2 separate regions of the Homo sapiens genome follow, and region 2 is linked to region 1. A link means that fine-mapping ties the variant in region 1 to the expression of a gene that starts in the linked region. Tissue or cell type: T cells. Region 1 holds a variant in brackets; the other region holds the start of a gene. All regions are shown on one strand. Distances are from middle to middle.

Region 1 (8,105 bases):
TGTATGGGGAATGAGGTTAATGCTTGGAGGGCTGCATGGGATGCTGGGTTAAACACTGATGTGCAGGAGACCTAATCAGTCTTTTCCTGTTTCTAATTGCTGAGTGCATCCCCCTCATTAAAATCTCATGGTGGGAGTGGGATTTCAAGGTGCTTCTGGGAGCTGTTGGAAAAATGGAAGAAAGTAGTAGCAGGCCGTGGCAGAGTTTATTCTTGAGGGAATGAAGGCAGAAATGGGGTGTATGGGGGTGATTAAATGGGGCCATAGCAGGAAGAATTCTATCTGGTAGTTTCACAAGCTGTCAGGCTACTGGTTTCCTCTTGGTTTGAGGTGGTCTGGTTGGATGTGGGGGACCACCTCAGTAGATGGAGCCATTGATAGCAATATAGTAGGAATATGAGCACCAAGGCCCAGGCATTCAGAGCCATGCACTTGGACCAGTTCTGTGTGTGCATTGTTCATGGACTGAAATTCTCTTAAGAGTTATAGACACAATATCGGGCATGTTTGCATGTGTCTATAGTCCCAGGTACTTGGGAGGCTGAGGCAGGAAGATCATTTGAACCCAGGAGTTCAAGGCTAGTCTGGGCAACATAGCAAGGCCTTGTCTCTTAAAAAAAAAAAAAAAAAAAAAAAAAAAAAAAAAAAGGTGGGGGTGTGCTGGGCGCAGTGGCTCACGCCTGTAATCCCAGCACTTTGGGAGGCCGAGGTGGGCGGATCACGAGGTCAGGAGGTCGAGACCATTCTGGCTAACAGAGTGAAACCCCATCTCTATTAAAAATACAAAAAATTAGCTGGGCGTGGTGGCGGGCATCTGTAATCCCAGCTGCTCAGGAGGCTGAGGCAGGAGAATGGCATGAACCCTGGAAGCGGAGCTTGCAGTGAGCCGAGATCCCGCCACTGCACTCCAGCCTGGGCAACAGAGCGAGATTCTGTACCAAAAAAAAAAAAAAAAAAAGAGAGAGAGGTATAGCACAATATAATCAAACAACAATTCGCTCATACATTCACCATCGAGCATTCATTCATTTAGCAAATGTTTATTGGCCAACTCTTCTGGGAGCTTGCGATACATGGGAGTACAAAATGGCAAAGATCCTTGCTCTTATAGAAATTTCATTTTGGCAGGAGAGACAAAAAATAAATAAGTAGATTATGTAGTATGTTAGAGAATGTTCAGTACACAGAAAAAAGGAGCAAAGTCGGGAGCTGAGGTGTATTTGGGGGTGGCGAAGAAAGGGCCGTGGTAATGGTGACCAAGAGTACCATTAAATATGATGTGGTCTTCCGGGAAGAAGATCTTGTTGAGACAATGAGATTTGAGCTAAGACTTGAAGGAGGTGAGAGAGCATTTCAAATAGAAAGCATAGATAGAAGAAGAACTCCAAGGTGTGATCACATTTAGCGGTCAAGGGATAGCAAAGAGGCAAGTGTGCATATAACATAATGAGTGAGGAGAGGGGAGAAGGACATCAGGACAGAGTGCAGCAGAGTAGAGGTCAGGCAGTGGTCTGCCCCAGAGGCCTAGCTCTTCCGCTGTGTGAGATGGGAGTGAGCCATTGGAGAGTTTTAAACAGATGAGTAACATGATCTGACTTATGTCTTAAAAGGACCAGTCTGACTGCCATGCTGAGAATACACCTTATTAGGGCAAGGGTGGAGGCAAGGAGACTTGTGAGCGACAAATGCCACAGTCCAGGCGCCCTAGACCTGGGCTGTAGCAATGGTCAGGGTGAAGATTGGCCAGATGCTGGAGGTATTCTCTAGGTAGAGACAGCAGGATTTCCCGATAGATTGCATGTAAAGTATGAAAGAAAAAGGAAAGAATAACTTCTGGAGCTGAGCAACTAGAAGGATGGAGTTGCTATCAACCAAGTGGAGAAAACTGCAGGGGGAGTAGACTTAGGAAGGAAGAGCAGGAGTTCATTTGGACATGTCAAGACTTACATGTCTATTACCTATCTGAGAGGACATGTGGCTTGACAGTTTGATATATAAACCTGGAGTTTAGGAGAGAGGTCTGGGCTGAAGATAAGTATTTGAGAGTTGCTGGCATATAGCTAGTATGTAAAGACACTAAGTTGGTTGGGAATGAAACAGAGAAGAGGACCAAGGAATAAGTCATGGGTCTCCAGACAACAGAGGGTGGCAAGAAGAGGAAAAGCAGCAATGATTCTGAGAAAGAGTGATCAGAAAGGAGGGAGGGAAACCGAGTGTGTTGGAAGCCACGTGAAGGAAACATATCAAGCAGAGAATTGCCGACAGTGTCGAAGGCTTCTGACAGGGCAAATACAAAGAGGACCAAGGATAAACCAATAGATTTAGCAACCTGGGTGACCTGACTTTGGAGGGCAGCTTTGGACGAGGACTGGGAGCAAAAGCCTGACTAGAGTGAGTCTAAAAGAAAACAGGGGAGGAATTGGAAGCAGCAATGCAGACAACTCTTTCTTTTTTTTTGTTTTTTTCTTTTCTTTTCTTCTTTTTTTTTAGACGAAGTCTCGCTCTGTCGCCCAGGCTGGAGTACAGTGGCAGATCTTGTCTCACTGCAACCTCCACCTTCCGGGTTCAAGCAATTCTCCTGCCTCAGCCTCCCAAGTAGCTGGGATTGCAGGTGCCCGCCACCACGCCCAGCTCATTTTTGTAATTTTAGTGGAGACAGGGTTTCACCTTGTTGGCCAGGCTGGTCTCAAACTCCTAACCTCAGGTGATCTGCCCACCTTGGCCTCCCAAAGTGCTGGGAATACAGACGTGAGCCACCATGCCCAGCCTACAGACAACTGTTTCTAAAACATAAGCCATTTTTACTATTTCATGTCAGTATTCAGTATCCCCGATTATCTACACATACCATGATTAGATGGTTTTAATCAGTGATCAAATTTTATGTCTGTTTTCTTTTCATACTATATCATAGATATCTAAGGGATGCTATATAATCTTCATATTTGTCTTTTTTTTTTTTCTTCTAGACAGAGTCTTGCTCTGTCCCCAGGCTGTAGTGCAGTGATGTGATCTTGGCTCACTGCAACCTCCGCCTCCCGAGTTCAAACAATTCTCCTGCCTCAGCCTCCTGAATAGCTGGAATTACAGGCATGTGCCATCATGCCTAGCTAATTTTTGTATTTTTAGTAGAGATGGGGTTTCACCATGTTGGCCAGGCTGGTTTCAAACTCCTGACCGCAGGTGATCCTCCTGCCTGGGCCTCCCAAAGTGCTGGGATTACAGGCGTGAGCTGCTGTGCCTGGCCCATATTTGTCATTTTTAATACATCAAAAGGATGTGTCAATACATTTTAACACATAATGGAGGAAGTCCTAGCCAGAGCAATCAAGGCAAGAGAAAGAAATAGAAGATACCCAAATAGGAAAAGAAGAAGTCAAAGTATCTCTCTTCGCTGATGATTTGATTCTATACCTAGACAACCCTAAAGATTCTGCCAAAAGACTTCTAGAACTGATAAATGATTTCAGCAAAGTTTCAGGATACAAAATAAATGTAAAAAAATCAATAGCATTTCTGTAAACCAATAATGTTCAAACTGAGAACCAAATCAAGAACGCAATCCCATTTACAGTAGCCACACA[CA/C]AAAAAAAAATACCTAGGAATACATCTAGCCAAGGAGGTGAAAGATATATACAAGGAGAACTACTAAACACTGCTGAAAGAAATCACAGGTGACACAAACAAATGGAAAAACGTTCCGTGCTCATGGATTGGAAGAATCAATATTGTTTAAATGGCCATACTGCATAAAGCAATCTGCAGATTGAGTGCTATTCATATCAAACTACCAGCATCATTTTTCACAGAATTAGAAAAAACTATTCTAAATTCATTTCGAGCCAGAAAAGAGTCCAAACGGCCAAAGCAAATCTAAGCAAAAAGAACAAAGCCAGAGGCATCATATTATCCAACTTCAAACTATACTATAAGGCTGCAGTATCCAAAACAGCATGATACTAGTACAAAAGCAGGCACGTAGATCAATGGAACAGAATAGAGAATTTAGAATAAAGCCGCACACCTACAGCTATTTGATCTTCAACTAAGTCGACAAAAATATGCAGTGGGGAAAGGACTTCCTGTTCAATAAATGGTGTTGGGATAGCTGGCGAGCCATATGCAAAAGAATAAAACTGGACCCCTACCTTTTACCATATACAAAAGTTAACTCAAAATGGATTAAAGATTTAAATGTAAGACCTCAAACTATAAGAGGCCTAGAAGAGAACCTAGAAAACACCATTCTGTACATTGGCCTTGAGAAAGAATTTATGAGTAAGTCCTCAAAAGCAATTGCAACAAAAACTAAAATTGACAAATGGGACCTAATTAAACTAAAGAGCTTCTGCACAGCAAAAGAAGCTATCAACAGAGTAAACAGAAAACCTATGGAGTGGGAGAAAATATTTGTAAACTATGCATCCAGTAAAGGTCTAATATCCAGAATCTATAAGGAACTTAAAAAATTCAACAAGCAAAAAACAAATAACCCCATTAGAAAGTGAGCAAAACAATAAACAGACACTTCTCAAAAGAAGACATAAAAGAGGCTAACAAACATATGAAAAAATGCTCCACATCCGTGATCATCAGAGAAATGCAAATCAAAACCACAGCGAGATACCATCTCACACCAGTCAGAATGGCTGTTATTAAAGAGTCAAAAAACAACAGATGCTGGTGAGGATGTGGAGAAAAGAGAACACTTATATGCTGTCAGTGGGAATGTAAATTAGTTCAGCCACTGTGGAAAGCAGTTTGGAGATTTTTCAAAGAACTTAGAACTACCATTCAACCCAGCAGTCCTATTACTAGGTATATATCCAAAAGGAAAGATATCACTCTACCAAAAAGACACATGCACTCATATGTTCATCACAGTACTATTCCTAATATCAAAGACATGGCATCAACCTTAGTGCCCATCAGCAGTGGATTGAATAAAGCAGATGTGGTACATATACACCATGGAATACTATACAGTCATTAAAAAGAAAAAATCATGTCCTTTGCTGCAACATGGATGCAGTTGGAGGCCATTATTCTAAGCAAATTAATACAAGGACAAACACTCAAATACCACTTGTTCTCACTTTATTTTTTTGAGAGTGGGAGCTAAACAATGGGTACTTATCGACATAAAAGATGGCAGCAATAGGCACTAGGGGCTACTAGAGAGGGTAGGGAGATGGGGGCAAAGGTTGAAAAACTACCTATTAGGTACTATGCACAGTATACCCCAAACCTCAGCATCATGCAATACATCCATGTAACAAACATGCACAGGTACCCCCTGAATCTAAAATTTAAAAGTTAAATTTTTTAAAAAGGGAAAAATAAAACACATAATGGAAGTACCATAATGCTTCCTATTGCCAACCTTTTGGTTTATTTTCATTTATTATTTTAAATAGCACTCAGGGAAGACTCTTTGTGTATGTTACTTTCTTTGTGATAATTTCCTGAAAATTCATTTCCAAGTATAGGATTTTGAAGTCAAAGTTATAAATACCTTGGGAGCTTTTAGTATATATTGCTAGATTGGTGAATATTTCCAAAAGATTATATCAGCTTGTATTGCCACAAGACATGAGGGTACTGTTTTCCTCAGACCTTCATCAGTATGGGGCTATGTTCGTTTCTTTTGACTTTTGATACATATATCATAGGTTTAAACTCTTACTTCATTGTTTTGAATTTGCACTCCTTTGCATAGTAACAAGGTTGAATATTCTCCAGATGTTTTTAAGAGAATTGCTTTTGTTGTTGCTAAGGCCCTTGGAAAATGCAGTATTGTTAGCGGCGTGGGTGTGTATGCAGTGTGGAGAAAACAGGTGTGTGGCAAGTGTAGGAAGGGATGGGTGTATGGAGAACTCATGAGTGTGCTGCCATGTGTGCTGTGTGGAGAATGTGTATGGCGTGTGTTTGTAGGGAGAGGTTTAGAGCATGGAGCAGAAGAAAGTGGAGAAGTGGTTCTCAATGATGCCTGCACTAGAGCAGATACAAGTTTGGAAAGTAGCTGCTTTTGGAAAGAGGGATATGAGGGAGATGTTTTATGTAGGAAATTTTATAGTGCACTGAATTATTAAGCTATATCTATGTATACTTTTAATTAAAACAAGAACTAAAATGTAGTAGTGGCCAAGATGATCTCAAAGGGCCTGCCAGTTACAAAGTTACCTATTTTGGTAAGATGGACTTGAGGAAGGGTAGTGTCAGCAGAAGGGGCTGGGCTGTCGGAGGACCCCCTCAGGGTGTGACAGTTCAGAACTAACGGCATTAACACAACTCTTTTTTTTATTTTTTTGAGACGGAGTTTCACTCTTGTCACCCAGGCTGGAGTGCAATGGCGCGATCTTGGCTCACTGCAACCTCTGCCTCCTGGGTTCAAGCGATTCTCCTGCCTCAGTCTCCTGAGTAGCTGGGATTACAGGCATACACCACCACACCCAGCTAATTTTTGTATTTTTAATAGAGATGGGGTTTCGCCATGTTGGTCAGGCTGGTCTTGAACTCCTGACCTCAAGTGATCCACCTGCCTCGGCCTCCCAAAGTGCTGGTATTACAGGCATGAGCCACTGCATCCAGCCAACACAGCTCTTTAGAACCATGTAAAGAACTTTTAAAAGGCCCAATGCCCTTGAAGGATAATCTTTTCAACAGTTGTTGGTACAACTGGTATCCATATGGAAAAAAAATAGGCCACCACTTCTACCTTTGCCTCACACCATGTGTAAAACTAAACTCAAAATAGATCATAGACCTAAACATAAAAGCTAAAATTATAAAACATCTAGAAGAAAACATAGGAGAAAATCTGCAAGATTTTATGATAGGCAAAGATTTTTTTGGACAAGTCATAAAAAGCACTAACCAGAAAAGAAAAATTAATAAATTTGGTTTCATCAAATTAAAATCTTTGTTCCTCAAAAGACATTATTAAGAAACTGAAAAGACAAGCCACAGATAAGGAGACAATATTGCAATACATATCTCTAACAAAGAACCATATTCCAAGTATGTAAAGACGTCCTACAACTTAACAGTAAGAAGCAGCTGGCACAGTCGCTCATGCCTGTAATCCCAGCACTTCAGGGTGCTGAGGTGGAGGGTCACTTGAGCCCGGGAGTTCACGACCAGCCATAGCAAAACATAAGGCAGCACAGGGCAACACAGTGAGACCTCATCTCTACAAAAATAAAAATACAGAATCAGCTGGGGCATGGTGGTACATGCCAAGTAGTCCCAGCTACTTGGGAGCCTGAGGCTGGAGGATCACTTTAGCCCAGGAGTTGAAGACCAGCCTGGACAGCATAGTGAGACCCCCATCTCAAAAAAATAAAAAAATAAAATTCCAACGAGGTATCATTACATACCCACTATAATGACTAAAATGAGGAAAAAAATAACAATACCAACTGCTAGCAAGGATGTGGAAGAACTAGAATTCTGATACACTGCTGGTGAGAATGTAAAATGGTACAACCAGTTTGGAAAAGTTTGCCAGTTTCTTATGAAATTCGACATATACTTGCGAAGTATAATCCAGCAATTCTACCCCTGGTATTTTTGTCCAAGAGAAGTGAAAACATGCCCACACGAAGACTTAGAGTATTCATCATAATAATCCCTAACTGGAAGCAAACTAACAATTTATCACAAAGACAATGTGATGTATTCATACAATAGAATATTATTCAGCAATAATAAGAAATGTACAACAGATACAGCAATAGGAATGAGTCTCAAAAACCTTCTGCTTAGTGAAAGAACCAAGGCCCTAAGAGCAAATAACTGTGTGAGTCCATGCATGTGAAGTTCTAAAACAGGCAAACTGGGAGAGGGGGTGAGTAGAGGAAATTGCCTGGGAGCGTCCAGGGGATCATTGGGGTAAAGGAAATACTCTCAGAAATGTAACAAATTGATGCCCACTTCACACTGTAGATCAATTCAGTGGAAATCTCTCGGGTGATTCCAGTGTGCAACCAGTTTGAGAACCAGTTCTGGTGTGAGTTTGTGTGTTGTTTTTGTCTGTTCGTGCACCCATCTATTCTTATTGGTTTACAAAAGAGACCATGAGCCACAAAAAATGGTCGCCAAGC
Region 2 (8,105 bases), 86 kb before region 1:
CAAAGGGAGAAAAGTACCCCTCTTCCCACAGAGACCGCTGAGCCTGTGAAATCCCCTACACCAATCCCCTTGGGGGGTCTTGTGGACAGCACTGGGCAGGCAATGGGGGATCAGGGCACTATCTCCTCCTCTTAGAATTGAGAACCCCACCTCAACTCTGCCCTCTCATTGTCAGCTCAGCTGTGACCAGTTTTAGCATGCCCTCATCAACCTCCATGGCCTCCTCCATCCACTCCAAATAGACGCACAACCCAAACATAAGTAGGAGTTTAAGGAGAGTCTCCTGGCCACCCCACCTCCTTTCCCAACCAGACCATGGCCCTGAAATCTCTCCTTCACAGGCACTCTAAAGCCCACACTGGGAGTCCAGAAGCAAAAACTCACTAGAAGCAGCTAAGTTGATATCTACATGACTACAGAAAAGTCACTTTGCCTCTCTGAATCTCAGTTTGCTCATCTATGAAATGGAACCAGCAGGAACTAGGGCAGTAAATCATTATTCACACAAACTCCATTTCTCTGTTTGTAAAATGAGTAGGCTGTGCAAGACTTGTTTCAGTTGATTTCCCAGCACTGAATTAAGCACGGAGGACCGAGAGGTAAATAAAAAACCATCTCTTCTGCCTCGGCTCTCGTGTTACCAAGGTTTCTTCCACCCTCATTTTCTCTGGCTTAGGACGTGTTTTCCCATCATTGGAAAAAAAGAGTCCACAGTACATTTATGAACCTCAAATAATGCATGACTCAAGAAAGGGGACATTATTGGCTCCATCATAGAACATAACTGTGCATTCCCCAGGATGTGTGGGAGGGACGGCATGAGGTAGGGAGGTAGAGTCATGGAGCAGGAAGCAAAATCTCAGCAGAGGTTCTCAAAGCCTCAGTTTCCCCTGAAGAATGCAGATGCGAACAGGAAACTGGACTTGCTAACATATCTGTTCCTTTGTTTTATATTTAATTTCTCCTCTTTACCATCTTCATGGAATATGTGACTCTGGCTCTCTGAAACACTCTAAAACACGTGTGGATAACGGCCTTTCTTCCCTGCAGTTGCAGTGGAGAAAAGGGTTCAAGTGCGCATCGTTTTTAAAAACAAGACAGCCTGTCTCAGGCTCAGGTGATTCCTCTGGGCCACCGGGATGTGGCCTTTGTCATTAGAAAGGCTTGGCCTGTGGTCACTTCTGCACTGCCCAACACTGCCCAAGCCTGTCTCCTTCAACTCCACACGCGGGCAGCCAGACGCAGCCCCAGGAGGGTGGCCAGGAGAGGGCTGGGCTTCTTGTCTTCAGTTCGGATTCCTGCAGTTCAGTCACCTGTAGAGTAACGTCCAATTCAGCCTATCATGTGGCTGAGCCGGTTTTACCTTTAATCTCTTTCACGTTTGCCCTCAGCCTCGCAGAATGTCCGGGATGATTCACGCGCCATCACATGGGGCAGGCAGTCATCTGTTTTATTACCTCACCCTGCTTGCCGCTTCTGCGAGATAACCTGGGATTCTTTCGTTGGGGGTGGATGGGAGGTAAAAAGAGCGAACAGACCTAGGCCTTAATTCAGGAGTCAATTCCTGCTCTGGTCTCTCTTTCTTGCTTCCCAGGCCAGGTCAAAAGGTCCAAAGAAGCAAGCCATTTGGAAAATGCCAGGGTTTGGGTGGCTGGACTAAAACGAAAGTGGGACTTGGCAGTCTAAAAGGTGTTTTCTCTTCACAATCAATGCCAACCAGTAAAAAGGCTTGGTTGAAAAATAAGGCCAAAAAAAAAAAAATCAGCAATTAGGAGGACTGTTGCAAGCAAGCAGGCATAATTTTCAGAAGGGGAAAGGACGTGGATTTGTGTTTTGAACAGAAAATACTTCAAATGGTCCACATTTCATAGAGGTGTGTCTGCTGCCAGGCACGGTGCTCCGAATGCACCGCACCACAGCCCCTGAGATGAAGGCGTGCTGCTGAGTGCCAAGCCCTCACATTTCTCCTCCTGCTTTGCCCTAACCACAAGCCCAAAGGAGTCCATATTGTTATGTGATTTTTTTTCAAATCAAAGACTGAGACTTCAGTGAAGCAAGCTGCCCAAGGTCACACAGCTAGAAAACCGGGTGGGCTTGGGACCCAAACAGCCTGATTCTAGAGCTCTTGCTTCTCAACCAAAAAACTATGAAGCAAACATCAACAGAGATGAACATTTGTCAGTATCAGTCATGTTCCACATCCCAACCATGGGGAAGTTCTGAGGCTGCAGAGTGATTTAAAAAAGAAAGAAAGTCTCCAATCTGGGTGACAGAGCGAGACTCCGTCTCAAAAATAAAAAGAAAGAAAGAAAGAAAGTCAGCCAGGCAAGGTGGCTCATGTCTGTAAGCCCAGCACTTTGGGAGGCTGAGGTGGGCGGATCACCTGAGGTCAGGAGTTCGAGACCAGCCTGGCCAATATGGTGAAACTCCAGCTCTACTGAAAAATACAAAAATTAGCTGGGCGTGGTGGCGCAGGCCTGTAATCCCAGCTACTCTGGAAGCTGAGGCAGGAGAATTGCTTGAATCTGGGAGGCAGAGGTTGTAGTGAGCCGAGATCATGCCACTGCACTCCAGCCTGGGGGATGGGGGGAGACTCCATCTCAAAAAAAGAAAAAAAGAAAGTATAGGTTAATAACTGAGAACACTGCACTAGAGTCAGACCTAGTCTGTCTTATGAGCTCTGTATCCCAGGCCAACAACAAAGCATCTTGGAGCCTCATCTGTAAAATGGGTATAATAAATAGACTTTCCTATGCCAGAGGGTTGTTATGAAGATTGAGATCATGTATTCAAAGAACCTAGCACCAGGTTGGCTTTGCTTTGGGGCTACTGCTCTAATCAATAGTGGGTTTTTATGTAGTAAAGGCTTGACCCAAACAGAGGAAGTGTAGAGGGCTGTGGGAATTCCCCCATAAAGGAATGGGGAATTCCAACTTTTGGGTGTTGAGGGCCAGTCTGAGGCTGGTGTCCCTGGACTCTGGTGCCTGGTATTTATGGAATGAAGGAGGGCCAAGCACTGAGCCCCGAGGCCTGGCCTCAGGGAAGGAATTAACTATGAAGAAGGCATTTGGAGGCGAGGCTCACTCTGGTGGGTCTTTTCTGTCAAGAGGAGATGAGACCACAAACATGATTCCCTCTCTGGCTCAGCAACACCCTGGTCCATACAGCACAGGGTGCTGGTTCTTCTGGAAGACCGTGGGGCTCAGGCAAGAGAAGACACCCAACTGGGCTTCATTCGACCAGTCCAGCTTCCTGCCATATGCCGAGGGCAAAAAAGGGTTAAATTCCCACTCAGTACACAGATGTAAGAGGAGATGGGGAAGTGAACAGCCAGTTGATCATTCACTCAATCATGCTAGCTTGCTTTTTGTATTTAATGCTACATTTTAAATTTATTTATTTATTTATTTGAGACAGAGTCTCGCTTTGTTGCCCAGGCTGGAGTGCAGTGGTGCGATCTTGGCTCACTGCAACCTCCACCTCCCAGGTTGAAGTGATTCTCATGCCTCAGCCTCCCGAGTAGCTGGGACTACGGGCGTGCACCACCACGCCCAGCTAATTTATTATTATTATTTTTTAGTAGAGATGGGGTTCACTATGTTGGCCAGGCTGGTCTGAAATCCTGACCTCAGGTAATCTGTCTGCCTCACCCTCCCAAAGTGCTGGGATTACAGGCGTGAGCCACCGCACCCACTAATTCTACATTTTTAATTTCTCAAGAAACATTGTGTCTCTGATTGTTTTATTCTCTTGAACATTTTTCAAGATGGAATTTTGCTTTGCTTACTTTCTTCTTTTTCATAGCCCCACTTCTCCCAAATCCATAACACACCTACCTCAAAGTATCACAGGAAAGAAAGCCTGTGAAGCTGCTAGCCACAGCCTGTCACAAGTAAGTCCTCAATTTAGCTAACAATAACAATGGCATTACTATTACTTTTACAAAGTGTTTTCCCTGACACCCTCTGGAAGTCCTCCCAGGAAAGCGGATCCACAGCGCTCCTAATTTTAGGGACCCTGAGGGGAGCCAGCTACATTTCCAAATGGTGGGGAAGGGTGGAGGGTGGGCGAAACGTCGTAGGGAGAGTTGAATAGAAGGAGACAGATGGTGCCTGTGTTGGGGGAAGGGACCAGAGATCCTGGAAAACTTATGTTTCCCAATTCGCAAGAATGTTTCCATTTAACCACTTCTTGCCTGACTCCTGATTCTACACCACAGAAAAGCAGGGAGTTTTTAAGATTTGGGGCCACCTGTGCCGAGAGCCTGGCTACTCCGGGTGGAGAGAGACAGGAGCGTTTTAAGTACAGGCAGAGCGGTTTTTGGCCCAGCCCCCTAGGTCTGGGACGCAGGTGAGGGGCGGTCTCTCCTTCCCCTGGCAGGGGCAGCGTAAGGGTGGCCGGCGGCTGGGACTGTCCCACGAGGGGGCGCGTCTCGGGCCCTAGGACCCGCCCTCGAGGCGCTGCGCGCGGGGAGGGGACCCGGGAACCCAGGCGCCCGGCGCTCCGCCTCCCGTTTCCGGGGCAGCGCGGTTACCTGCACCGCCCGAGCCGCACCTGGCGGAGGCAGAAGTCACAAACCCGGCGAGCTCAGAGCGGTGGAGCGGAGAGGAGGGACGGCACCCGGCTGCAGGGAGGAGGGAGGCGGCAGCGGCAGCGGCGGCGTGGAGGGCGCAGCGCGCCGCGCGGCGGAGGAGGGCAGACGGCGGCGGCGGCGGCGCTCGGCTCGCTCTGCCCGGCCGGCTGGGCGCGCACCCGGGCTCGCACCGCGCCGCTGCGGACGCACATGGCAGCGTGAGAGGCCGGCGGCGGGAGGAGCGGGCGGCGCCGGGTCGGGGCTGCAGGGCCGCATGGACAGCGGCGCCACCCCGGCCGGCCCCTACTAGGGCCCCCCATCTGCGGGCGCCACCCCCCGGATCATGGTGCCTCGGCGGCCGCCCGGGCTAAGAGCGGCCGGCTGGAGCCGCTGAGCCCCCGCTGCGGCCGGGAGCTGCATGGGGGAGCGCCGGCAGCGCTTGGGAAGATGCCCCGGCCGGAGCTGCCCCTGCCGGAGGGCTGGGAGGAGGCGCGCGACTTCGACGGCAAGGTCTACTACATAGACCACACGAACCGCACCACCAGCTGGATCGACCCGCGGGACAGGTAGGACCCTGGAACCCTCCTCCGTGCCCCCACACCCCCGCCTGGGCCCCCACCTGCCCCTGGAGCCGCCGGCCGGGACTGGGAGGGGGCAGGGGAGCTCTGCGTGCCTCTTGAGCTCTCTTCAGTTCGCCACCCCCTGCTCCCCCCAACCTTCTGGAGCGCTGCTCCCGCCTCAGTGGGCCACCGAGAGGAGGCGCCTGCCGGGGAGCTGGCCCAGGCTGCCCCACCGCCATCCCCAGTTGGAGGACTTAGGCCCCAGCCGGCACCTGCCCGGAGTTTTGACCTTAAGCTCTAGCCCCGCCCGCCCCCTTTAGGAAGAGAGGTCGGGCGGGGGCGGGGGTTGGGGGAGCGACCTAGCCGGGTGAAGCCGGGTCTTCCCGGGGAGGCTTCCACCCAGCGTGGGGGGTGGGCGGATGGGGATGGGGAAGTGTCCGGTTAGAGGGGGTGGTCAAGACCCCAGGATTCCGTGGGAGACCACTGGAGAGAGGGCACTCGGCGCAGAGGAAGGCAACCTGAGGTGTGCTTTTTGACAGGTGCCTTGGAAGCTGCTGAGAACAGCACAGGGGCAGCCAGGGGGCCCTGGAACCCGAGGGTGGGGAGGAAGTGAAGAAGCGGGGGAGGGCAGATGAGGGAGACTGGTTATCCAGGAATCTGGCAGCAACTTGGAAGCTGTTAGGATGGAGATGGAGGTGAGAGGCCTCCCGGAAAGCCTTGCCCCTCGCCTCTTTCTCCTCTCTTTCTTCCCTGATCGGGGAAGGGGGCGGCGAGGCTCCTCAGCCCTGCACCAGCGGGACCTGACCTTGGTGGGTACCAGGCCGCTGTAGGTTGAGATAATGTGCAGAGGCAGATGGAGCCTGAGATAGCTCGGTGTGGCTCTTACCTCTCCAGACTTTCTCCTGGTTGTTTGGCATTTCTTTGCTCACATGCTGCACACACACACATACATTCACCCTCTCCATGTATGTCCTAGAGTCCCCGGACCACGATGTTGTTGACACGGTCTGTGGGCAGAGTGTCTTGGGGAATGCGGACTTTAAACCTTGTCTGTGACCTTGGGGGTCAGGTCCCTGTAAAGCAACCAAGGTGAATTTCTTGGACTCTTCATCTTGTGTGGTGGGGGTGGAGGTGTCCCAGAAGTGTATGTAGCAAGATGTGGGTCAAAAAAAGAATATAAGCGGAAAGAAAATGAGAGTTGAGATTCTCGGTAGTTTCTGGGAGCACTTACTTTCATTCATTCATTCATTCGTTCATTCAGCGCTTCCTGGATGCCTCCTCTACACTCAGCACCATGCTGAATGTCTCATGAATGTAATCTGGAAGGTAAATATTTAGTGCTAGAGAGCATCTCTTAGGCAAGCTGCTTCAACCTCTGAGCCTCAGTTTCCCTGTTTGTCAGATGGGGGAGCCCACCATTTCCCTGAATTTAAAAAGTTTGCTTGGAAGGGAATATTGGGATGCTTAAAACTTGGAAGGGACGTACATCAGCGCCCAACTCCCATTTGAAACATAAGAGAAAATTTGAAGCCCAGAGGTGTGATTTGCTCAAGTATTTTGATTTTTCTGCCATTCTGCGTACCAGTTCTTCACCAGCTCTGAAGTTCTAACCTGCAAACTTGTCACCCTGACACACTGCTTCCCCACCCTTACTCGGGTCAGTTGCCAGCTCTGCTACTGTGTTGGTGAACTTGGCAGCACCTTTTCTCTTGTCCTTTTCTCAGAACAGACACAAGTTCAAACATATGTGACCTGCCCCAATTTAGGTCCCTGTAGTTTACGGAGGCCTGTGTGCTGTTAGCAGGTGGACGTCCTGTTGGAGGGAAAGGACCGCCCCTGCCAACACTGATAATCATGCATCTGGGGACTTCTAATACAGCAATAGGAGGCCCCTCTCAACAGTAATTCTTTACCCTTGGAAAAGGGTAAGTAAGTAGCTTCTATGAAGAACTGATTGGCTGGAGCACAATCTCCCAAATTTTAGTGTTACATGGACCACCTCCATGATTTTTTTTTGCTATATCCACCTGTGCTATTGCTTACTTACTCCTTGACTTTAGATCAACTCACTTTAAAAATATGTGTACCATTTTCACAAATGGGAAACTAGTTATATCTATTGTCATACAGGGGAAACAAAAAAGATAGGCAAACAAAAAAAACAAAAAACCAGGGTTAGTATATTTTAGCTAGGTACTGTGGCCAGCCTAAGGCCACAGCACCTCACCTGCCCAGCCTTTGTTTTTAAGCAGATTGGCAAGCCATGGAGAGGCGGCAGAAACATAGTGGCACTTAGGTGAGCAGCTCACCTTCTTCATCTTGTGTCATTGGTTTTTTTGTTTGCTTTTGGTTTTTTTGTTTATTTGTTTTTGTTTTTTGGAGACAGAGTCTCGCTCTGTCGCCCAGGCTGGAGTCCAGTGGTGCGATCTTGGCTCACTGCAAGTCTGCCTCCTGGGTTCAAGCGATTCTCCTGCCTCAACCTCCCGAGTAGCTGGGACTACAGGTGCACGCCACCACATCCAGCCAATTTTTTGTATTTTAGTAGAGATGGGGTTTCACTGTGTTGCCCAGGCTAGTCTTGAACTCCTGAGCTCAGGCAATCCGCCCACCTCAGCCTCCCAAAGTGCTAGGATTACAGGCGTGAGCCACCACGCTTGGCCTTGGGTCACTGGTTTATAAACTTCATCTCTGTACCTCCTTGTCATCCCACCTGGACTGGGGTGGTATTGGGCCCCTGAACTTGGGGTCCTGAGGGGGTCTCATGTCAACTCTGGGGGTCACTATTGTGGTCCAGCTTTGTATGTTTTGGAAAAGTGCTAATTGGAGGATAGCCACTTGTGGTTTTCTGGAATTTCCCTCCGGCATACCCCATTTTTGCCTTTTAGTTCTGTCTGTGTGGCCTTGGGCAAATCACTTGACCTCTCTGAGGTTTGAGTGCTTGAGAAGTGGGTTGGTTAGATGGTCTTCAAGGG

The links. PIP is the estimated chance that this variant, and not a neighbour inherited with it, causes the effect.
Region 2: WWC1 starts here. The variant in region 1 is fine-mapped to the expression of WWC1 in T cells (TOPMed, PIP above 0.99). The same link has a PIP of 0.9 or more in blood mononuclear cells.

The regions. Positions count from the first base shown.
Region 1 is chr5:168,373,107-168,381,211 of GRCh38, forward strand. All of the region lies in intron 2 of WWC1 (WW and C2 domain containing 1), which reads left to right. Among named protein-coding and RNA genes, the nearest start is that of WWC1, 86 kb to the left of the region's middle. The variant CA/C (reference allele first, on the strand shown) is at 3,585.
Region 2 is chr5:168,287,133-168,295,237 of GRCh38, forward strand. It overlaps WWC1 (WW and C2 domain containing 1), which reads left to right and starts at 4,513. Exons shown (of 23, transcript NM_015238.3): 1 at 4,513-5,139. The coding sequence starts at 5,021. RefSeq lists an enhancer at 3,062-3,141 and silencers at 4,286-4,805, 4,906-5,325.